Regions from separate parts of the Homo sapiens genome. Here region 2 is linked to region 1. The links come from fine-mapping of genetic effects on gene expression. A gene starts in region 1. The other region holds a variant in brackets. All regions are shown on one strand. Distances are between the middles of the regions. Region 1 holds the start of SP110 (SP110 nuclear body protein). Region 2 overlaps SP110 (SP110 nuclear body protein).

What was found.
Region 2: its variant is fine-mapped to the expression of SP110 in monocytes (TOPMed, PIP above 0.99).

What each region holds. Positions count from the first base shown.
Region 1 is chr2:230,218,107-230,223,484 of GRCh38, forward strand. It overlaps SP110 (SP110 nuclear body protein), which reads right to left and starts at 1,878. Exons shown (of 19, transcript NM_080424.4): 1 at 1,768-1,878. It also overlaps a transcript of SP140 not described here. RefSeq lists an enhancer at 1,607-2,086 and a silencer at 1,804-1,990.
Region 2 is chr2:230,166,655-230,172,032 of GRCh38, forward strand. It overlaps SP110 (SP110 nuclear body protein), which reads right to left. Exons shown (of 19, transcript NM_080424.4): 17 at 5,042-5,113; 18 at 3,967-4,107; 19 at 1-2,583. The coding sequence ends at 2,470. Among named protein-coding and RNA genes, the nearest start is that of SP110, 51 kb to the right of the region's middle. The variant A/G (reference allele first, on the strand shown) is at 3,275.

The sequences.
Region 1 (5,378 bases):
AATGACATTCTTGACAAATTGTCAAGAAAAGGAAAAGCACTAACAAAACATTCAATCAACTTGACAGTTTTTAACAAACAGAACAAACATGGATTCCACTTTTCCAACTTCATTTTGTGTTGAACAGAAAAGTAAATCGTAATTAACAACTGTTTACAGGGATTTAATCCCAGTGGCAGATTAAGCACCCTAGTCTCTTTCTCCTCATTCCCCAATTTTTTTAACTTGGCAGAAAAAAATACTCATGAAAAGAATAATCCGCAATCGCATAGGAAAACAAGAAAAGATGCCATTGAGAGTCTGTGGTGGTAAAGAAGTCTTGGAAGATAGAGAACAGATAGGAGAGAAATCTACTATCCACAATATGCACAGGGGAAGGAGATAGTGCAAAGATCAGTGCAAAGTCAGAGAAAGGCAGAGTAAACATATACTAAGAAGAGGAAGGGGTCTTGGAGGCTCCTTTTAGAACAATTCATTATACAGCAGCGCTCAGAACAGGAAGTCTAGAGCTTCCTCATTCTTCATCTGTCATGAGTCCCAAAGATGAAAGGGAGGCACAGAGAGGTTTAGTAACTCACCCAAGGTATTCAGTGGCAAAGCAGAGCTTGTCTGACTCTAAAGCCCTGTTTCTTTCTATGCAAGATACTACATCTCATATATGACTGTTCAGATTTTTATTATGTAAAGAGATTTTGCAAACGAATAAGCAAAAGACAAACATCCAACTAGAAAATAAAAAAGCAAAATACATGAACAGAGAGTGATAAAAGAATAAGCCAAATGTGCAATGAATAATACGATAAGCATGTTAACTAGCTAGTAGAAAGCATAAAGAAGGCCAGGCATGGTGGCTCATGCCTGTAATCCCAGCACTTTGGGAGGTTGAGGTGGGCGGATCAGCTGAGGTCAGGAGTTCGAGACCAGCCTGGCCAACATGGTGAAACCCTGTCTCTACTAAAAATACAAAAATTAGCTGGGCGTGGTGGTGCACATCTGTAGTCCCAGTTACTCAGGAGGCTGAGGCAGGAGAATCGCTTGAACCTGGGAGGTGGAGGTTGCAGTGATCTGAGATGGTGCCATTGCACTCCAGCCTGGGTGACAGAGCGAGACTCCGTCTCAGAAAACAACAACAACAAACAACCAAAAAAAGTGTAAATGAAGACAATTTGATAACATATTTGTCTATCAAATTGGCCAAGATAGAAAATAATAGTAATAATCTCAGACACTGTGAGTGGGAAGGTCAACAGGTCCAAATGTTCTGAAGGCTGATTTAGTAATCAGTGTCAAATGTCCTAAAACATGTGCTCCTTTGAATTTCCACTTCTAATAATTTATTTCAAGGAAATAATCATGTATTTAGAGAAAATATATAAAAAGTTCATGATACACTAGAGACGAAATTAAATGTACTCTCATTTTTTTCTTTTCCACCAGCTTCCCAAGTACCTCTAGTCATTTACACAATGGATAACAGATGAGCCGCCTATTGCGGGCACTGAAGGATCAGAGCTTAGGTGAGGGTAGAGGGCAAATCTCGGCTCCATTCACAATAACAGGCTGGACTCTGGCGAAAAAAAGAGGTGTCAGTGTTCCCTCCATGTGCCCCCTTTTAACAGTCTCCTAATAAGTACCACATGTCTGAGCTCTGAGAGAGCCTCAGAGTTTAAATAGTTGAACTCCACCCTGCAGCTGCTGCCGCGAAGTTAACTCTAAGAGCTGCAGTCACCAAGAGCGAAGAATAAAGCAGCAAAGACAGAAACTCACCTGGACTTTGAGTTTGTCGTTCCTGCCCCTTTCCAGGGGCTGGGACAGGGATCACTCCTCAAGATTGGGAGAGTTACAGGGAGATGCTAGCAGGCAAAACAGGAAGTCTGTGCTTTGACAAACGCAGTAAGGGGCCGGGCTTCCGAGAAAAGAAAAGTGAAAGTTTTCGGAGTTTGCCAAGCCGGAAGCTGAAGGCAGGTCGGTGCCTGCAGCCTCTCTCCACCTCCTCATGGGCACTTGTGAGGCTCCCAGGACGTCTTGGCAGTTGGGGTTTGGGGGAGGGCGTGTTGCCAGTTGGGATCAGCCCAGAGAGGGAGGTATGGGAGGAGGAGGCATAAGGGTACAGCCCCAGCGGCAATAGGAACTGGGAACTCAGCGTCCAAATGCTTCCCTAACCACATCTATTTTCCCATGACTTGTCCTCATTCTGTACATTTTAGGTTGATGAAAATGTTCTCAAACTGGATTGTGGTGATGTTTACATAACTGAATGAATTCACTGGAATTTATCCAGTGTGTTATCAAACTCTAACAACACACAAAAAAACAAAGAGAATGTGCCAGAAATGCCTAGAACTTGTCAGGATAAGATTATTACAGGAAGAAATTGAAATGAAAGGGAACCTGCACATGAACTGGAATTGTGCAGAGGCAGGCAGACCTCCAGGCAGAAAAATGGCTGAGAGCTGGGCAGGTAGTTGGGAGCCAGGAGTCTGAGGCAGAACTGGGACCTGCTGATTCCAGAGAGCAGTAACTCAAGGGCTGGCAGGGACACCCCTTCTCATGCCCCTTTTAAAGATCCCTAATGTACATTGACATGTGGGGCCTATGAAAAATCCTAAACTATTGGCCAGGCACAGTGGCTCATGCCTATAATCCCAGGACTTTAGGAGGCCAAGATGGGAGGATTGCTTGAGCCTAGGAGTTTGAGACCAGTCTGGGCAACATAGTGAGACCCCATCTCTACAAAAAATAAAAAAATAAAAAATTAACTGAGTGTGGTGGCATGCACCTTGTAGTCCTAGTTAGTGAGGAGGCTGAGGCTGGAGACTTGCTTGAGCCCAGGAGTTCAAGGCTGCGGTGAGCTATGATTGCACCACTGCACTATAGAAATCTGTGTAACTTTGGGCCAGGCTCGGTGGCTCACGCCTGTAATCCCAGCACTTTGGGAGGCTGAGATGGGTGGATCACAAGGTCAGGAGTTTGAGACCATCCTGGCCAACATGGTGAAACCCCATCTCTACTAAAAATACAAAAATTAGCCAGATGTGGTGGCGGGAACCTGTAATCCCAGCTACTTGGGAGGCTGAGGCAGGAGAATTGCTTGAACCCAGGAGGTGGAGGTTGCAGTGAGCCGAGATCGCACCACTGCACTCCAGCCTGGGTGACAGAGCAAGACTCCATCTCGAAAAAAAAAAAAAAAAAGAATTCTATGTAACTTTGATTAAATCAATAATTCTCAAATGTATTTGACCCACAAGTTCCCCTACCAGGACATCCACAAACTCCTCAGATAAAAGATGGGAGACATGGATCTAAAGTTTAAGAAGCTTTGAAACCAAGGCTAACTGCATAAGAGCAAGCCCTTCTATGCAGGCACAAACAGCATATCCCACCCTAGTATGTACAGAATAGCAGACCCGGCCTTGCGGGTAATGGCTGTGGGTGAAACAGAGGCATGGAAGCCACAGCCAGGAAAAATTCAATGCTAACAGCTGAGGAGAGGGTGCATTGATGCCTCAGCATGCAGTAACATACAGCGCTGTGATGCAGGGGATGGCGGTGGTAAAGGAATTAAGGTTATTTTATGCAAATGTCACATGTCACTTACCTGAAGCCCCTCCCCATCACCTGGAAAGCCCCTTCATGGGCATCTGAGGATCCTGGCAGCAAGAACTTCTTCCTTTAGATCTATTCAGAGATACACCAGGCAAATGCAAAACAAACAAACAAAAGTAAAGCAGGAGTGGGAAAATAAAGTCAATGTCAAATCAGGCAAAAATTGTTACATGAAAAAAAGACAGCTGCGAATGAGGATGAAAGATGTTTATTCTAAGCCATATATGCTTGGCTGGGCACAGTGGCTCAGGCCTGTAGCTTAGCTAGCACTTTGGGAGGCTGAGGCAGGCAGATCACTTGAGGCCAGGAATTCAAGACCAGCCTTGCCAACATGGCAAAATCCCGTCTCTACTAAAAACACAAAAAAATTAGCTGGGCGTGGTGGCACATGCCTGTAATCCGAGCTACTCGGGAGGCTGAGGCATGAGAATCGCTTGAACTCAGGAGCTGGAGGTTGCAGTGAGCTGAGACTGCGCCACAGCAGTTCAGCCTGAGCAACAGAGTGAGATCCCGCCTCAAAAAAAAAAAAAAAAAAATGCATGCTTGAGAACATGGTAATAATGGGAAAACGTCACCTGTTAATTCACATGCTAGTGATTATGTACTGAGATAAATTATACATAATTCTTTTTAGCTCCATTTTATTGAGGTATAAAATTTATTCATTGTAATGTACATTTTACCAAATGTAGTTACTACACCAGTCAAGATGTAGACCATTTCTAGGCCTGGAGAGTCGCTTGTGCCTATAATCCCAGCATTCTGGGAGGTCAAAGCAGGAGGATCGCTTGAGCCCAGGTGTTTGAGACCAGCCTGGACAACAGAGCAAGACCTCGTCTCTACAAAAATACATTTTTTTAAATTAATTGGGCATGTTGGCATACACCTGTGGTCCCCGCTATCAGGGAGACAGAAGTGGGAGAATTGCTTGAGCCCAGGAGGTCCAGTCTCTGGTGAGCAGTGACAGAGTGAGACCCTGTCTCAAAAAAAAAAAAAAAGATACAGACCATTTCTGTTACCCTAGAAAGTTCCCTGTGACCTTTGCAAACAATCCCCTCCTTAAGGCCAGCACCAGGCAACCACTGATCTGCTTTCTATCACCACAGATTAGTTTCGTGTGTATTAAAGTTTTTTTTTTTTTTTTTTTTATCAATGAAGGCACATGGAATGCATTTTTGGTGTATGGCTTTCTTTTCCTCATCATCATGCTTTTGAGATTCATCTCTGTTGTTGTGGGTCAGTAATTTATTCTTCTTTAGCAGGTATGCTAGCCACCAAGATCCTGCTCATCCTGTCTGATCAGCATGATGTCATCAATCAGTCTGACTTTTTTTTTTTTTTTTGAGACAGAGTCACGGTCTGTCTCCAGGCTAGAGTGCTGTGGCGCAATCTTGGCTCACTGCAACCTCCGCCTCCCAGGTTCAAGTGATTCTCTTTCCTCAGCCTCCTGAGTAGCTGGGACTACAGGCACGCATCACCATACCTGGCTAATTTTTGTATTTTTAGTAGAGATGGGGTTTCACCATGTTGGCCAGGATGGTCTTGATCTCCTGACCTCGTGATCTGCCTGCCTCAGCCTCCCGAAGTGCTGGGGTTATAGGCATGAGCCACCATGCCCAGCCCAGTCTGACATTCTATGGGATGTCCAGGTGATCCAGATATCTTTCAACTATATTATGACAAAGGGCAAGTGAGTCAATATAACCTGCCTGGACTGCCTACTTTCTTAACCTAGTCCTCTGGCTTTCCCATACATTCTGTGAGCTACCCAA
Region 2 (5,378 bases), 51 kb before region 1:
GTGTTAAAATTCTGTTAACTTTTATTGTTGTACCTGGGGATTGAGCAAGTGAGTAAATAATACTGTTGGAGAAGGGAGACACCAATACAGAACCGAGGAAGACAAGGAAGAAGCCTGTGGGGTAGGATGGGATGGGATGGGAATTAGAGGTGTATCATACATATAAATCATGTATCAAGGAAAATTTCCTGCCCTGGGATTAGGGGGAACTAGCAACATGTGCTTGACTGGATTTCAGAATTGCTATAAATGAGTGACTGCTGCTTCCTTTTTCCCCGTTTGAATGGAAGTGTCTATAGTAGTTGTTCAGTCCCTGTTTCATCACTGACTGTTGGCAGCAGGGAAGAAACAATTTTTCAGCTCACAGGCCTCTAGTTCAAGAGGAGGTGCACCCAAGGAGCTGCACCCAATAAACCATACCTGAGGAGCCTATTTCTTTTGTTTTCTTTCCTTTTTTTTTTTTTTTTTTTGAGGCAGGGTCTCTGTTGTCCAGGCTGGAGTGCAGTGGTGCATTCTTGGCTCACTGCGACCTCTGCCTCCCAGGCTCATCCTTCCACCTCAGCCTCCTGAGTAGCTGGGACTACAGGTGTGTGCCACCTTGCCCAGCTAATTAAAAAGATTTTTTTTTTTTTTTTTTTGTAGAGATGAGGTTTTGCCATGTTACCCAGGCTGGTCTTCAACTCCTGGACTCAAGCGATCCACCTGCCTCGGCCTCCTAAAGTGCTGGGATTTCAGGTGTGAGCCACTGTGCCCAGCCCGAAGAAGCTTTATCTGATCTGAACCTGATTTAGATAAGGAGGTCCTGGACTTTGTTCCAATGCTGCAGAGAGTGAGACTTCTGTGGGGAGAGGAGTGTCCTTTGCATTTGGGAAAGATGTGAACTACTGTGGCCAGAGGGTGAACTATGGTAGATTGCTTCTAAAGATGGGAGCAGCAATGTTTCTTCCCAAGCAACATTCTCCTTTGAAATGTGACTTTGCCACCCATCGCATCAAGAGGTAAGGTCTATTCTCCCTCCTTCTGAATCTGTCCCTGTGACTTGCTTTCACCAATAGATTGTGGCAGAAGTGACAGTGTGCAAGTATGAATGGGGTCTGCCAGTACCATGTGGAGCAAAGGGAAGCATCCTCATGGATGATGCCTGAATTCTTGATCCACAGAATAGTGAGCAATAAAATGTTTTTTTCTTTTTAAGCAGCTAAGCTTTGAGGTCATTTGTTACACAGCAATAGATAGCTAATACACCATCAAAGAGTTCTGGGGTCATTTCAAAACAACTCAGGAGGCAAATTGAGGAGTTTCTCACTAAAAGTGGGGAACTTGCACATGCCTGTAATCCCAGCTACTCGGAGGCTGAGGCAGGAGAATCGCTTGCACCCAGGAGGAGGAGGTTGCAGTGAGTCAAGATGACGCTACTGTACTCCGGCCTGGGTGACAGAGTGAGACTCTGTCTCAAAAAAAAAAAAAAAAAAAAAAAAAGAAAAAGTGGGCAACTCAAGCATCAATAAAGGTATTAACTGCAATGGTTTGTAGCATGCTACGTATATTTAAATATGTGGGTTCAAGATAATTAAATTAAAAAATCCCTGGTTACCTTTAGAGGATATTGGGACATCAATTCATTATTTTGAACATTGCTAAATAAAAAAACAAGCATTTATCCTATTTTTTGTACAACCTGTATTTCAAGGTAACCGAATACTGTTAAAGAGAAGCTATTTGCAGAATAATTCTGACCAATAATTATGTAAAAAAAAACCTGAATCTCATCATTTTGCAACCTCTGATGATATCACGGATTTAGGTATTGCTAAAACCATCAGGTGATAGATGATCAGGCTGATAACACGTGCACCTGCTGCCAACCTTAACATAAAAAATAATACTAAATTCCCCTGTGAAGCCTGCATGTGCCCCAAAACCCCCAAATCAAAACAAACCCCTCAAAACCTGAGTTAAAGCAAGCTTCTAGATCTAACTTCTAGCTTACAAAAAATGAGAGGAAGAGAGGACTATACCACTAAGAAAATGCAACCAGAAAATTCCAGATTGCAAAAAATGTAATAGGACCAAAACCCTGAGTTCTTCAATAAATACATGACAATTTATAGCTTAAAAGAGACATAGGGACAGGAGAGCCAAATGCAGTGTGTGGAACTTGTTTAGATCCTGATTTGAACAAATCAACTCTAAAAAGACTTATGAGACAGTGGGGAGAATGTGAACTATGATGGGGTATCTGATGGTATTAAGGAAGTATTAATTTTTTTTTTTTTTAGTGTAGATATAGACTTTTAAAGGTAAAAAGAAAGAATAAAGATGGAGGGTGTGATAATCCTATGAAGTGTCTGGGTTTGGGTCCTGAGGGCAGCCAATTACATCCCAGACTCACTGGCAATCAACAGTCCAAGCCAGGGTCCCATCAGCTGAATCCTGAGGTGGGGATGCTTCAGTCTTTACAGAACAGGGTCAAGGAAGAGTCCAGAAACCGCCGTCATTGGCTTCATGAAAACCGAGCACGTCTTTGAGATCTTTTTCAAATTCTGCCTCTAAGTCAAGTCCTACCTGGCCAAAGTCAGAAGCCTGAAAGAGAAAAAAGCAAACAAACACATTGAAGGATGAAGGATTACAGCCATCAAATCACTCATACTTTTTTTTGTGTTTTTGTTTTTGAGTCAGGGTCTTTCCCCGTCACCCAGGCTGTGGTGCAGTGGCACCGTCATGGCTCACTGCAGCCTTGAATTCCTGGGCTCATGTGATCCTCCCACCTCAGCTCCTGAGAAGCTGAAACTACAGGCACATGCCACTATGCCCAAAGTTTTAAAACATTTTTTTCTCTTTCAGAGATCGGGGTGAGGAGGCCTTGCTATGTTGCTCAGGCTGGTCTCAAACTCCTGGCCTCAGATGATTCCCTCACCTCGGACTCCCAAAAAGCTGGGATTACAGATGTGAGTCACCATGCCCAGCCTCACTCTTATTTTTTTAGGAGCCCAGCAGTAAGGCAGAATGGATGGGGAGATGCTGCTACTAAAATGTTGAAAAGCATGAGACTCCAGCTGGTTGTTAATTTCCACCTGACAGGCGATTTAGACTGAAGGGTTAGTTTTGATCATGGCAAATCTGAGCATGATGCAAAATAGCTTAACAATTTTTGTAAATGCATTTCTTGGAAGCCCACTCGCTGAGGAAGGATGACCCTCTGTTCTCCAGGACTACGGATATGCCAGGCACTGAGTGGCTCTCTGGTCAACCCTTTCTCCCTGCAGCTCCATGA[A/G]TGGGTACCAGTTTACAATCTGTGGTTTGTGAACATGCCAACTCCTGGCATGGAAGAAGGGAAGGAAGCTGGGTGGAGATGAAAATCTTCCTTAGGTACCTCCCAAGAAATATCTGTACAAGTGAGGATAAAAATCAGGAAAAACCAAAGTTACAAATGTCTGGGATTGCAGGATAGCTCAACCAGCTGTCCCTCCCTAGTAAAGGAGGATGAAACCAACATTGGATCTGAAGGCAATTCCAGATGTTTGAGTCCAATGAGAAATTTATGTGTAAAAATATGCAAGCCTGATTATCCAGGAAGTTTAATTGATTTTATGTTGTTTACTTATTTATTTTCATATTTCTGAGGCAGGAAGAACAATGTAGGCATAAACTGCCTTTCCTTCCAGTTTGAACAAAGAGGCTGGATGCCATTTACTGCTCTCGTTGGGAGCGAGCTGCCGATCTGGGAACAGAGCATGGTTTTTTTCAGCTTCTGTTCCAGAGATCCCTCCCCTGTCCTGCTTGCTGTTCTTTTTGCCACTCACTCCTTGCCTCCAGGAATGCCGAGGTGGTTTTTTTTCTGTAATCCTTGTCTTGTTTGAGCTCTCCCCAGGCTGAAACTGAGTGTAATACTTGCAAAATTCTGCTGTCCCAGAAATTAGGGGAAAGTAGAAAAGACGCAAAAAGGAAGCAGGAAATGCTCTTTACCTTGTAAAATGTTTTATGGTTGCGAAACATCAGGCGCATGTCTCGCACAAACCATGCCACCGTGTACATTTCCGTAATCAGCCTTTCCTTAACCAGGTCCAACCACATTGCTTCCTGAAAGGGCTCACCGTAATCTCGAATCTTGGGGACAAAGCCACCAGAGGTGACGTTAGCACAGCTGTCATCACTGGAATGGATCCAACTTAAATACAATCCAAGCCTTCATTTCCAGGGTCATAATGATAATACCATTTGACCTCTTTAAGCCAGCTATTGTTCTAGGCACTAGATAAACTAAATTCTAAGCCAAGTATATGAATATGTAATCTCCACATTTATGGGTACCATAAATAATAATGCCCATTTCATAGATGAGGAAACCGAGGGATGGAGAGGTCAAGGAACCTACCCAAGATGTCTCAGCAAGAAAGTGGTAGAGCTGAGATGGGAACCCACACAGTTTGGCATCTATGACTCTTTTTTTTCTTTTGAGATGGAGTCTTGCTTTGTCACCCAGGCTGGAGTGCAGTGGTGCGATCTTGGCTCACCGCAACCTCTGCTTCCTGGGTTCAAGCGATTCTCCTGCCTCAGCCTCCTGAGTAGCTGGGATTAGAGGTGCCTGCCACCATGCCTGGCTAATTTTGTATTTTTAGTAGAGATGGGGTTTTGCCATGTTGGCCAAGCTGGTCTCAAACTCCTGACTTCAAGTGATCTGCCCGCCTTGGCCTCCCAAAGTGCTGGGATTACAGGCGTGAGCCGCTGAGCCCAGCTGGCATCTGTGACTCTTAATCTCTAGTAGGAAAGACATTCTTCCTAAAGAGAAGATGAAACAGATACACAGGAGGAGAAGCAACTTGCCCGGTATCCCAGAGCCCGTGAGCAGTGGGGTGGAGTTTGAACCAGGTAGTCCCTCTCCAGAGTGTGCAGCAAAATCCCTGCTGCCCCGCTCCACTGCTGCCACGCTGCCCTTCTCTTCTGTTCTCCAGCTTCCTGAGCAAACTGCAGCACCTGCCAGATCAGCCCCCAAATTTCTCCAAATGCATTTTATGCAAGAGAACCGTAAAATGTGACTTACATTAAATGGGATGCCCGTAAAAAAGGAGCTTTGTGGATGACAGTAGGCCTTCAAGAGGAGGAACTCACATTTCTGTAAAATGTGAAGAGGGCTTGAAAGTGAAATGCAGCTTAGAAACAGTGAAGCCAGGCGAGTGTCTAGACATGCACACGGATGGGGCAGCCAAGCCCAGTCAGCATTCCAGCCATGCTTCCCAAGGCGCACAGGGTGTGTGGGATTTTGTTTAGACTCTGAGTTTGGGCATTAAATCGTCATCCTTTAAAGGGAGACATTGAAGGCTCCCTTTGGTACATTGCCCTGACCCTGTGCCTGTTTGTGCTTCTCGTGTGAGAAGGGA